2 separate regions of the Homo sapiens genome follow, and region 1 is linked to region 2. The links come from fine-mapping of genetic effects on gene expression. A gene starts in region 2. The other region holds a variant in brackets. All regions are shown on one strand. Distances are between the middles of the regions. Region 1 overlaps TENM4 (teneurin transmembrane protein 4). Region 2 holds the start of ALG8 (ALG8 alpha-1,3-glucosyltransferase).

Region 1 (5,384 bases), 720 kb after region 2:
TAAAGATCAAGAGTCCGATAGGATTCACAGCCCCAGCAGGCTAAATATCAGAGCTTGACCAGGTAGATCCAAGGCCCATTAAAAAACTTCCTGGCATCCTAGGGTACAAAAAGATCATTTGTATGAATTAGGAACCTACAAACAGGTCCAAAAGTTAAAGGGCAACAGTCAGGGTCTCAAAACATTCATGAGAAGGACACTCTACAATCACTGGGTGCCCCCAGAGACTTAACAAACACTGCAAAAAGCTTAGGTCACAATTAGGGCTCCCCTACAGCAAGATTAGGCCTCACAAGGCAGATTTTACTGATAATAGTCCTTTGCTTTGTAAAGCTAGATAGATTCAGGCTTCCCATAGCAATGCTGTGCAAATATGCAATCATGTCTATAAAAGAAATTTCTTAATGAATTGCTAAAATGGATAGCTCAGTCAAAAAGCAAGATTTGGAAGAACTGAAATTTCATGCACTTCTCAATCATAGCCTTTACTTTCTTGAACTGAGATCTACCTATATAGATTCTAAATTCCTAATCAACTAATGTTCTTTCTCTCCCTCCACCTTTTTGGTTCTTTTCAATGCAATAACTTGCATGAAGAATTCTTTAGTTTCCTTAGCAACTGGTTGAAATTTATTTGGTTATCAAAATAAGCTGTTCTGTTTTGGAGAGCCCAGCTGAGCCTGCGCACAGCAATTTGCATGGTTCAAACTAATGGGCAATTTTTATTTCACTGCAGAAAGAAGAAAATGCTATCCCAAGCCCACCAATTCAACCATCAGAAATGCCTGTTTATTCAATGTTTTTTTCCCTTCCCCATTAATGTGTAACACAAGTTCTTGTGGCTTTAGTTCGAAAAGCTGCTGTATTTGGTTTCTGTCCCATCACAACCCTGGAATGGTTACAGCCATTTGGAAAATATAGTATGAACTGCAGTTTCATGTTATTCTCAAGGACATGATGAACATTTACAATTCTTGGATTATCATACATTTAATTCATATAAATAAGAAATATATATTCTTTAACATATTCAAAAATACCTCAAACCTTTGCAGAATCTGTGGCAGGGAGAGAATGTTAATTAGTCTGGACTTCTGGGATTTTAATAACTAATATGGAATGGCATGGGATTTGAGTGGATAAGAAGAAGAGAACAAATATTTGTTGAGTGCCACTTCAACATTAGGCTTTGAATGGATAGATATAGTTATCCTTGTTCTACAGATGAGGAAGGTCAAGGGAGATGCAGTAAGTGCCATAAGTTAACAGAGCCAATATAAAGCAGGGTCAGGATTAACATCCTATACTGTCTGGCTCCAAGGCCCATTTACCCCTTTCTATCACACCACATTGCTTTCTCCATCATTGTGAAGCAGAGACTCTAATCTTAATTCTGGAATCAGCTGTCTTCTTGAATATCCTCAGAAGGGATGAGAAATATGTGCTCACATCAGAGTTAAAGACTTTCTGCATTGAGATATATCTAGGGGAATGCATTTTTAACATCACAATGAAAAACATACACTGAGTAGACATTGGTTTGACCAGGGCAAAATAAAGGAAGAACATTGTGGTCTCACATAAACTATAGGAAGCTTTGTCCTCTGGTTTCCAGTCTGACGTATTTTTTTTGTCACAGTGATTGCTTCTGATGCTGACCACTTTGCAGCACAGTGCTGCATTGAAGGCATTTGCAAACAGGATTTCCATTTGCATCAGTAATGACAGATAATCCCTTTAAGCAAAAATACTCCAATTAAAATAAACCAATAATCTGGTGCAATTTTATTTTATCTCTTATCTGCACCTCCTGTTCCTTACAAAAACAAAACAAAACCTAAACAACCCACAGACTAATTTCATTAGAGTGAGAGATTTCAGATAGATCCGACTCCTGTTTAAAGAACGTCTGATAGAGATCATAGAGGGAAGAAAATACGTTTTGCCAAATGAGATCCTTTACCAGTTCCTTGAGGGTTAAGCATATTTTAAATCTACATTTGTACATGCTGATCTAAAGACAGTCTTCACATTATGGTATTAACCCATGGCATCTGACGCTAGAAGCTGACATGGGCACCACGAGCCAAAAGGCAGGACCATGGACAGGGCCAACATGACATTCTGAAGAGCCATCTGGTTACTTACATGATTCTATTGCTATTTTCATATGTAGAACTTACAAATCAGAATGCACCTTAGAGAGAATCTAGCTCAATATTCTCCTTTTGAAGAGGAGAAAAGGACTCCCAGAAAGTGTGTTCAAGGGATTTGCTTAAGGTGATACCACAGGTCAGTGGCTGCAGCTGGAATTGAACTCAGGGCTTCTGACTTCTAACCCAGAGCTCTTCCCAGGTCCCATTCATGATTCCTCCCTCCATATCCTATTAAGAGGCAAAGAAAGTGTGCACTATTTAGCATTTTAAGACTTAAAATCTTTGCAAATGAGAGGACTGGCTTTGTCCCTCAAAATAGTGGGCAGGGGTTCTGTGTGGAAATGATCTCAGTTCCCACTTCCCTTAAAGATGACCAGAAGCCAAGAGTTGACTTTGGCCCTCAGGATCCTCATTTCAGAGGTCATGAGTAGATACTCTGACCAAGTATATGCCACCCTGTTAAACAAACTGGTGGCTGGAAGGCAAATTATTGCAAGGGCAGAGAGGCTCAGATGCTATGACCCAAAAGTCAACTGAGAGAAAAGAAGATGTAAGCAGTGAAAGTTAGAGGCAGCTATTGCCAATGTGCTGACTGAAGGGTCACAGGGAGAGAAAGCAGGCCATAGCAGGTGCAGGAGAAGGGAACGCCACACTGCCCAGAATGACAACCAGGCTGGGTTATTAGCTCAGACATCTTTCTGGGTGCCAATTTTTGTGAGTCTGTGCCACTCTTGGCTGACAATGTCCATGGCATGTTAGAAATATTTCTAAGACATTGAGAACATGGGCCTATGGATATCCCACTCAGGAATAGCAAACCCAATGCCACCACCATTTCCATCATTGATAGGAAATATCCATGTCTCATTGTACAATAGAATTTCACACCCACATCTCCTTCAGGGCCTTGTAACCTTGGGGTAAGTCAGGTGGGGAAGCTTATGGAGATAG[C/T]GAGAGCCCTGGAGTCACAGACCTGGGCTCATATCCCAGACTCTACCATTTACTGGCTGTGTGACTCTGGCCAAATCACTTAATTAGTGCAATCCTTTGCACCAATTCTAGTTTCTATATCTAGAATAATTATAAAATAATTATCTTACAGGATCTCTGTGGGAATTAAATGTGAAATGCTTTTGGCAAAAAGTTTTAAAACAAACATGCTGTACGAACACTAATGATTATTGTTATTATTGCGGATGCGGAAACTGAAGCTCAGGCAAATAAGTGACTTGCTCAAGGTCACACGTTTAGTAAATGACAGACCACTTAAACTGGTGTTTCTATTAAACCACAAGAGTCCAAGAATCTTTCCATTACAACACCCCATCTACCTGCCTCCCCATACCCCACTCCCACAGATGCCCAACTGTCCCATGAGGTTTGCCCAGAAGAGCTCCTCTCACCCCACACAAAGATGGCCACCCCAGCAGTGTGAAGCCCCTAATGCTTCCCTCAAGGCATGGGATGGGATTCTGCTGAGCACCATGAGCCCTTCCTGAGCCTCCCACGAACTCTCAGTGACAAGGAACTGCGATGAAGACACAGGTGGACTGGCAGCTTGACAGCTGGCGTGGAGTGTGGAAGGATGGAGGGAGCGCCAGAGCATGGAGCTGTGAGCCAGGCACATGATGCACGCACGTTATGGAGGGCTCTTCAGCTCAGAGGCAGACACAGAGGACTCACAACACGGACAACGCAGCAACCCTACCTTCTGTGGTTCCTTTGCCTTTCCTGTCAGGGGTCTCTAAGCCAGTGCCCCCTGAGGGGTATAGGGAGACGTCGGTTGGCACAGGCCAACTGCTGGCTGTGTCCTCCGTGATCTCATACATCTGCCCCTCCATCGGCTGCAGGTGCCAGTTTAGGCCAAACAGGTGCATGGCTGTGGTGAGCAATGAGAAAAGTCATCTTTTTCTGCTGGAGGCAGAAACGGGACTCCCAAGCCATAAGGGAAAGGTGGGCAGGGTGGGGGAACACAGGCATTCAGTTCAGTTCAACAAGTAGCCCCAAAAGGAAGCTCTTGTAGTGCCAGCCCTGCAAAGGAGACTGGGGACAGAGAGGATCAAGGTTCAGACCCTGCCCTCAAGGGGCTCACAGTCTGGTGGAACTGGGAGTAGGCAGGATCGGGGAGTCTCAGGAGGTCTTGGTCTTTGCTTCGAAAGATAAATAACAATCTGGGGGAAAAACTGCAATTGGTATGACAATGTTAATTTCCTTAACGCAAAAATAACTTGTACAAATAATAACCAAAGTCCAACAACTCAGTAGGAAAATAGGCATTGGATATGAACAGTTTACTGAATAAGAAATACAAATAGCCCATAATCATATGAAAAGACTCTTGGCATTATTCATAGCAAAAGAAATGTAAGTTAGACTCTGAAATACTATTTTTCACATATGGTTTGGCAAAGATAAAAAAGGTTGAAAATACACTATATTGGCAGAGAATGGAAAGCAAGCATTCCCATATTTTACTGGTGTGAGAATATAATGTACAAAATCTATGGAGGGCAATTTGATAAAAGCTAGCAACATTAAAATACACATACCCTTTATCCTGGGACATAAAGCTTCCAATTCTAGAAATTCCTCCTCCAGATATACTTATACATGTACTAAATGATGTACATACAAGGTTATTCACTTCAGTATAATTTGTTATAGCAAAATATTAGAAACCAGTCCATTGATAAGGGGCAAGAAAATGAAGTAATATCCACACAACAAAATTGGATGCAACCATTAACAAGAATAAAGAGGTTCTTTATGTATTTTTGTGGAAAGATAAGTATAACATGCAGAAGTGTATTTGATATACTACCTTTGGGTTTAAAAATTCCTGGAAATGTATAAAATATTTCTGGTAGAATATGAAAGACTGGTAACAGTAGCTGTGTCCTGTGAAGGATAGAGATACTATGGATCGGGGGATAGGAGGGAAACTTGCTTTTCACTGTACACCTTTTGCACATTTTCATTTTGTGCCATGTGCATATATTTCTGTTCTAAAGATATTTTTCCATACAAAAAATTAGCCGGGCGTAGTGGCGGGCGCCTGTAGTCCCAGCTACTTGGGAGGCTGAGGCAGGAGAATGAAGTGAACCTGGGAGGCGGAGCTTGCAGTGAGCCGAGATCCCGCCACTGCACTCCAGCCTGGGCGACAGAGCGAGACTCCGTCTCAAAAAAAAAAAAAAAAAAAAAAAAAAAAAAAGATATTTTTCCAAGGTA
Region 2 (5,384 bases):
CAGCTATTCGGGAGGCTGAGGGAGGAAGGCTGCTCAAGCGCAGGAGATTAAGGCTGCAGTGAGCCATGATGGTGCCGCTGTACTTCACCCTGGGAGATAGAGCGAGACCCTGCCTCTAGAAAAAAAAAATGTTTCTGAGCAGTAGGTCTCAACAGTGGGCTTATTCAGTAAACCATGCTGTAAATAGATGTGCTGTCATCCAGGGCTTTGTTGTTCCATTTATAGATCACAGGCAGAGTAGATTTAGCATAAGTCTTAAGGGCCATTGGATTTTTAGAATAGTAAGTGAGAAATGGCTCAACTAGATGTCATAGATGGCATCTTCCAATGTAAGTCTGTTTCTTCTACCTTGAAAACCTATTGTTTAGTGTAGCCACCTTCATCAGTGAGCTTAGCTAGATCTTCTAGAAAACTTACTGCAGCTTCTACATCAGCACTTGCTGCTTCACCTTGTACTTTATTATGGAGATGGCTTCTTTTCTTCCTTTTTTTTTTTTTGAGACAGAGTTTCACTCTTGTTGCCCAGGCTGGAGTGCAATAGCGCGATCTCAGCTCACTGCAACCTCCACCTCCCGGGTTCAAGTGATTCTCCTGCCTCAGCCTCCCAAGTACCTGGGATCACAGGCATGCTCCACCACGCCCAGCTAATTTTGTATTTTTAGTAGAGACGAGATTTCTCCATGTTGGTCCTCAGGTGATCCGCCCGTCTTGGCCTACCGAAGTGCTGGGATCACAGGCATGAGCCACCGCGTCCGGCCGATGGCTTCTTTTCTTAAAAGAACCTCTGCTAGCTTCCAAATTTTCTTCTGCAACTTCCTCACCTCTCTTAGGCTTCAAAGAATTGAAGACTTAGGGCCTTGCTCTGGATAAGGTTTTGGCTTAAGGGAATGTTATGGCTGGTTTGATCTATCCAGACCACTAAAACATTCTCCATATCATCAAGGTTGTTTCACTTTCTTATCACTTGTGTATTCACTGGAGTAGCACTTTTAGTTTCCTTCAAGAACTTTTCCTCTGCACTCACAACTTGGCTGTTTGGCACAATGGGCCTAGCTTTCAGCCCGTCTTGGCTTTCAGGATGCCTTCCTCATCAAGCTCAATCATTTCTAGCTTTTGATTTAAAGTCAGAGATATGTGACTCTTCCTCTCACTTGAACACTTAGATGCCACTGTAGGGCTATTAATTGGCCTAACTTTATTATTGTATCTCAGTCAACAGCAAGGCCTGAGGAGAGGGAGAGAGATGATGGAACAGCTGGTTGATAGAGCAGTCAGAACACACAGCATTTATTAAGTTCACCATAGTGTTGCCCCAAAGCAATCAGAATAGTAGTATCAAAGATCACTGATTACAGATCATAACAAATATAATAGCAATGAAAAAGTGTGAAATATTTCAAGATTTACCAAAATGTAACACAGACACAAAATGAGCACATGATGTTAGAAAAATGGCATTGATAGAGTTGCTCAATGGAGAGTTACCGCAGCCTTCAATTTGTAAAAAAAATGAAAATGCAGTATCTGTGAAGTGCAATAAAGCAAAGTACAAAAAATGAGGTATTCCTGTACATGTGCTGCCAAAGTGAGCGCTATATACATTCTTAACCTGGACCAAGAGCAGTATTCAAAATAACAACTCTGGCCAGGCACGGTGGCTCATGCCTGTAATCCCAACATTATGGGAGGCCGAGGCAGGTGGATCACTTGAGGTCAGGAGATTTGAGATCAGCCCTCCGCCATCATGGTGAAACCCCATCTCTACTAAAAATACAAAAATTAGCCTGGCGCGGTGGTGCAAGCCTGTAATCCCAGCTACTCCGGAGGCTGAGGCAGGAGAATCGTTTGAACCCGGGAGGCAGAGGTTGCAGTAAGCTGAGATCGTGCCACTGTACTCCAGCCTGGGTGACAGAGTGGGACGAGACTGTCTCAAAAAAAAAAAAAATAACAAACAAAAAAAACAACTCTGAGGATACATTTCTAGCCTGAGGCAACTAAAGCAAGAAATAATCTTATGCACAGACCTACAGTTAATCATTTTACTGAATCTACATATACATTCCACTTACATGATTACATATACGCATCAGTATGGACTTACATTCTATACATATGACTCTCCCATATTCAACAAGAGATCACCAAGAGCCTGAATCAAAGGATACCAATAAAACAAACCCTAAACTAGGAAGTGGGAGGGAAAGGAGAAAAGGGATGAGGGAGAAAAAGAAAAAAGAGGAAGGATGAAGGGAAGGCGGAAGCCAATATTAATAAATACTGAGTACCTACTGTATACACACCACCATTTCATGGTTGCTTCTTGGTTTCCACGCTTTCAGTCTTGGCCCTACATCCATTTTTTACACAGCAGTCTAACTGTGGTCTTCGAAACCCTGTGTTATCTGTCCCCAGTGCACCCCATGCTGTGCCACTCCTCTCCCTCAATGCTCTGCAGCCACAAGGGGCACTTTCTGTTCCTAGAATGCTCTGACTTCTTTCCTGCCACAGGGCCTTTGAACTTACTCTTTCCTATGCCTGAACTGCTTTCCACATCACTTATTCTTTTTCATTTTTTGAATTTCAACTCAAACATCACCTTCTAAAGGAATAGCGCACAGCCACTTAGTAACCCTCTATTTCCTTTATCACAATCTGAAAAGTTCCTGTTTGTCTAGCTCCACCCACCAACTTCGAGGGCAAGGACCAGCAATGTCTTGCTCACCACCGCATCTCCCGGGAGTTAGAACGGTACCTGGCACCTCAGGCATCTGATAATACTGGCTGAATGGCTGTTGGAGGCAGAGGTTCTTAACTGCCTATTAAGGATGAGGACCCTGAGGTTCAGAAACGTTAAAGTGATTTGTTCCAAATCAGACAGCGCCAGGTCTGAACCTAGCCAGCTGGGGCTAAGTCAAGTAACAACTGGCGAAACAGAAAGCTTAGCAAAGGCAGGATAGCGACAAACACGACCTAAAGTTTTCTCTTCATACCCAGGGATATCCACACCTTTCTCTCCCGCCCTGACCGACCGCGGGGCCTCCCCGCCCAGCCCCTGGCCGTGCGAGTCCCTTACTATGTGGGGATGAGAAGGCATTTGAGAAGAGTCACCCCGAGCGCCAAAGCCGAAAACCAATTGCCAGTACCCGTGGCAATTGTGAGCGCCGCCATTGCTGCGGCACCGCACGCTTCCCACCAACTTGATCCACATCCGGGATCCCGCGCATGCGGAGAAAGCCCTCTGAAGCCGTGCCCGCTAGCTGCGCGCATGCGGCGAGCGGCGCAGCCAGTCCGGGGACTGCAGTCAGCTATTTAAACCTCCCGCCCACCTTTTCTTTAGACCCGCGTCTCACCCCGGGCCGGAAGGGCTCCTGCGCAGGCGTTTGTAGCCACTTTTAAGTTTTATCAGCTAGTTCATGCTTGCGTTGAAAGAGTGGTCGTTTGCGCTGGGTCATCACTGTGTAGTATTGGGGATACTTAGGTGAGAAAAAAACTTAACGCTAGAGACGTTCACGCACTAGTGGAGAAGCCAGGATTGTTGCCCTAGAGTTACAGTAGATAAAAGTACCTCAGAGAACTGCGGGGGCTCCCAACCTGGACGCTTGCACCGGAGTATTAAATCCAGCTAGAGAATGGCATGTGCAAAGATACAGAGGTGAGAAACATTGTGTTTTTAGAACTCTGAGCGAGGCTCTTGGCTCACCTCCTGCTTGAGCGGAACCCATTCTGGAAGCAGGGTAGAGGCTAGTCCTAACGCTTAGTGTACAAATAGCCTACGGTTCATGTTAAAATAATTCGGATTCTGATTCAGTAGGCCCAACAAACTCGCAGATTGCGTAATGACTGAGGCACATGCAATTTAATTAGGCTTGTCTCATTATTTTACTGTATGATCTTGGACAAACTAAACTCTAAACCTCAGTTTCTTTTTTTAAAATTTTTATTTATTTATTTATTTTTGAAAATAGGAGATAAAAATGGTTTCTGGCCGGACGCGGTGGCTCACGCCTGTAATCCCAACACTGGGAGGCCGAGGTGGGCGAATCACCTGAGTTCAGGAGTTTGAGATCAGCCTGGCCAATATGGTGAAACCCTGTCTCTACTAAAAATTAAAAAAAAATTAGCCGTGCATGGTGGCGGGCGCTTGTAATTCCACCTACTCGGGAGGCTGAAGCTAGAGAATCGCGTGAACGTGGGAGGCGGAGGTTGCAGTGAGCTGAGATCGCGCCATTGCACTTCAGCCTGGGCAAGCCTCAGGCCTGTTTATCCAAGATGCTTTTGGTCTAAAAAAAAAAAAGTTTCAGCCTCATAAACTGGTTGTGAGGATTAAATGAGAATGCATGTAAATTGCTTGATATGATTCCAGGACAGAATAAATGCTCAATAATGTGTCAGATCAGTTAATTATCTTGCTGAAAGATGCACAGCAAGTAGGTGACAGTGTCACCTCCCTAATATGAGTTTATGCCCTCCCACAGCTTCAGCTGCCACCCATGTGAATATGATTCACAGATTTCTAGCTCAGCACTCTTCTCTCACTTTCAGACCCTGGTCTCCAGTTGGCTACCTGACCTCACGTAGATGTTTTTGTTTTGTTTTTGAGAGACAGGGTCTCATTCTGTGGCCCAGGCTGGAGGGCAATAGTGCAAACACAGCTCACTGCAGCCTCGATCTCCTGGGCTCAAGCAGTCCTCCCCACCTCAGCCTCCTGAGTAACTGGGACCACAGGGATGTGGCAACGTGTGTGTGTGTGTGTGTAGAGATGGGATCTCCCTATATTGTCCATGCTGGTTTCAAACTCCTGGGCTCAAGTGATCTTCCTGCCTCAGCCTCCCAAAGTATTGGGATTACAGTTGTGCGCCACCATGCCCAGCTACTTAGATGTTTTAAAGGCACTTTGCATTAATTTTCTATTTCTGCTGTAAGAAATTACCATAAACTTAGTAGCTTAAAACAACACAAATTTATTCTCTTACAGTTCTGTAAACCAGAAATCTAAAATCAGTCACTGGAGTAAAGTCAAGGTGTCATTTGGATTGGTTGCTTCCAGAGGCTCTGCAGGGAGATTGTTTTTCTTGTCTTTTTCAGCTTTTAGAAGTTGCCTGCATTCCTTGGCCCCTTCCTCACATCATTCCAACCAACTTCCATCCTTACAATCGATTACTTTCCTGTAATAGCTACAGTCAAATGGGCAGCTGAAGATGATGATGATGATGATCTTGACACCGAGAAGCAGAAGACCAATGAAGATGACCAGACAGCAAAAAAGGATAAGTTAAAAGAAGGTAAAAGAAGGCCACTCGTACTTGCTGTCTCAGTATCTAAAGGTGGTCACCTTCCAGTAGAGAGGCCCACCCACTGCAGACCGTGCCACCGAAGGTGACATG

What was found. PIP is the estimated chance that this variant, and not a neighbour inherited with it, causes the effect. A credible set is the group of variants that fine-mapping cannot tell apart.
Region 1: its variant is the best candidate, but not a certain one, in a credible set for the expression of ALG8 in whole blood (TOPMed, PIP 0.72).

Annotation. Positions count from the first base shown.
Region 1 is chr11:78,859,098-78,864,481 of GRCh38, forward strand. TENM4 (teneurin transmembrane protein 4) reads right to left here. Exons shown (of 34, transcript NM_001098816.3): 10 at 3,865-4,035. Among named protein-coding and RNA genes, the nearest start is that of TENM4-AS1, 230 kb to the right of the region's middle. The variant C/T (reference allele first, on the strand shown) is at 3,108.
Region 2 is chr11:78,136,421-78,141,804 of GRCh38, forward strand. ALG8 (ALG8 alpha-1,3-glucosyltransferase) reads right to left here and starts at 3,206. Exons shown (of 13, transcript NM_024079.5): 1 at 3,074-3,206. The coding sequence starts at 3,168. It overlaps KCTD21-AS1 (KCTD21 antisense RNA 1), which reads left to right and starts at 3,373. Exons shown (of 3, transcript NR_102281.1): 1 at 3,373-3,652. RefSeq lists enhancers at 2,789-2,898, 2,979-3,058, 3,669-3,778, 3,939-4,649.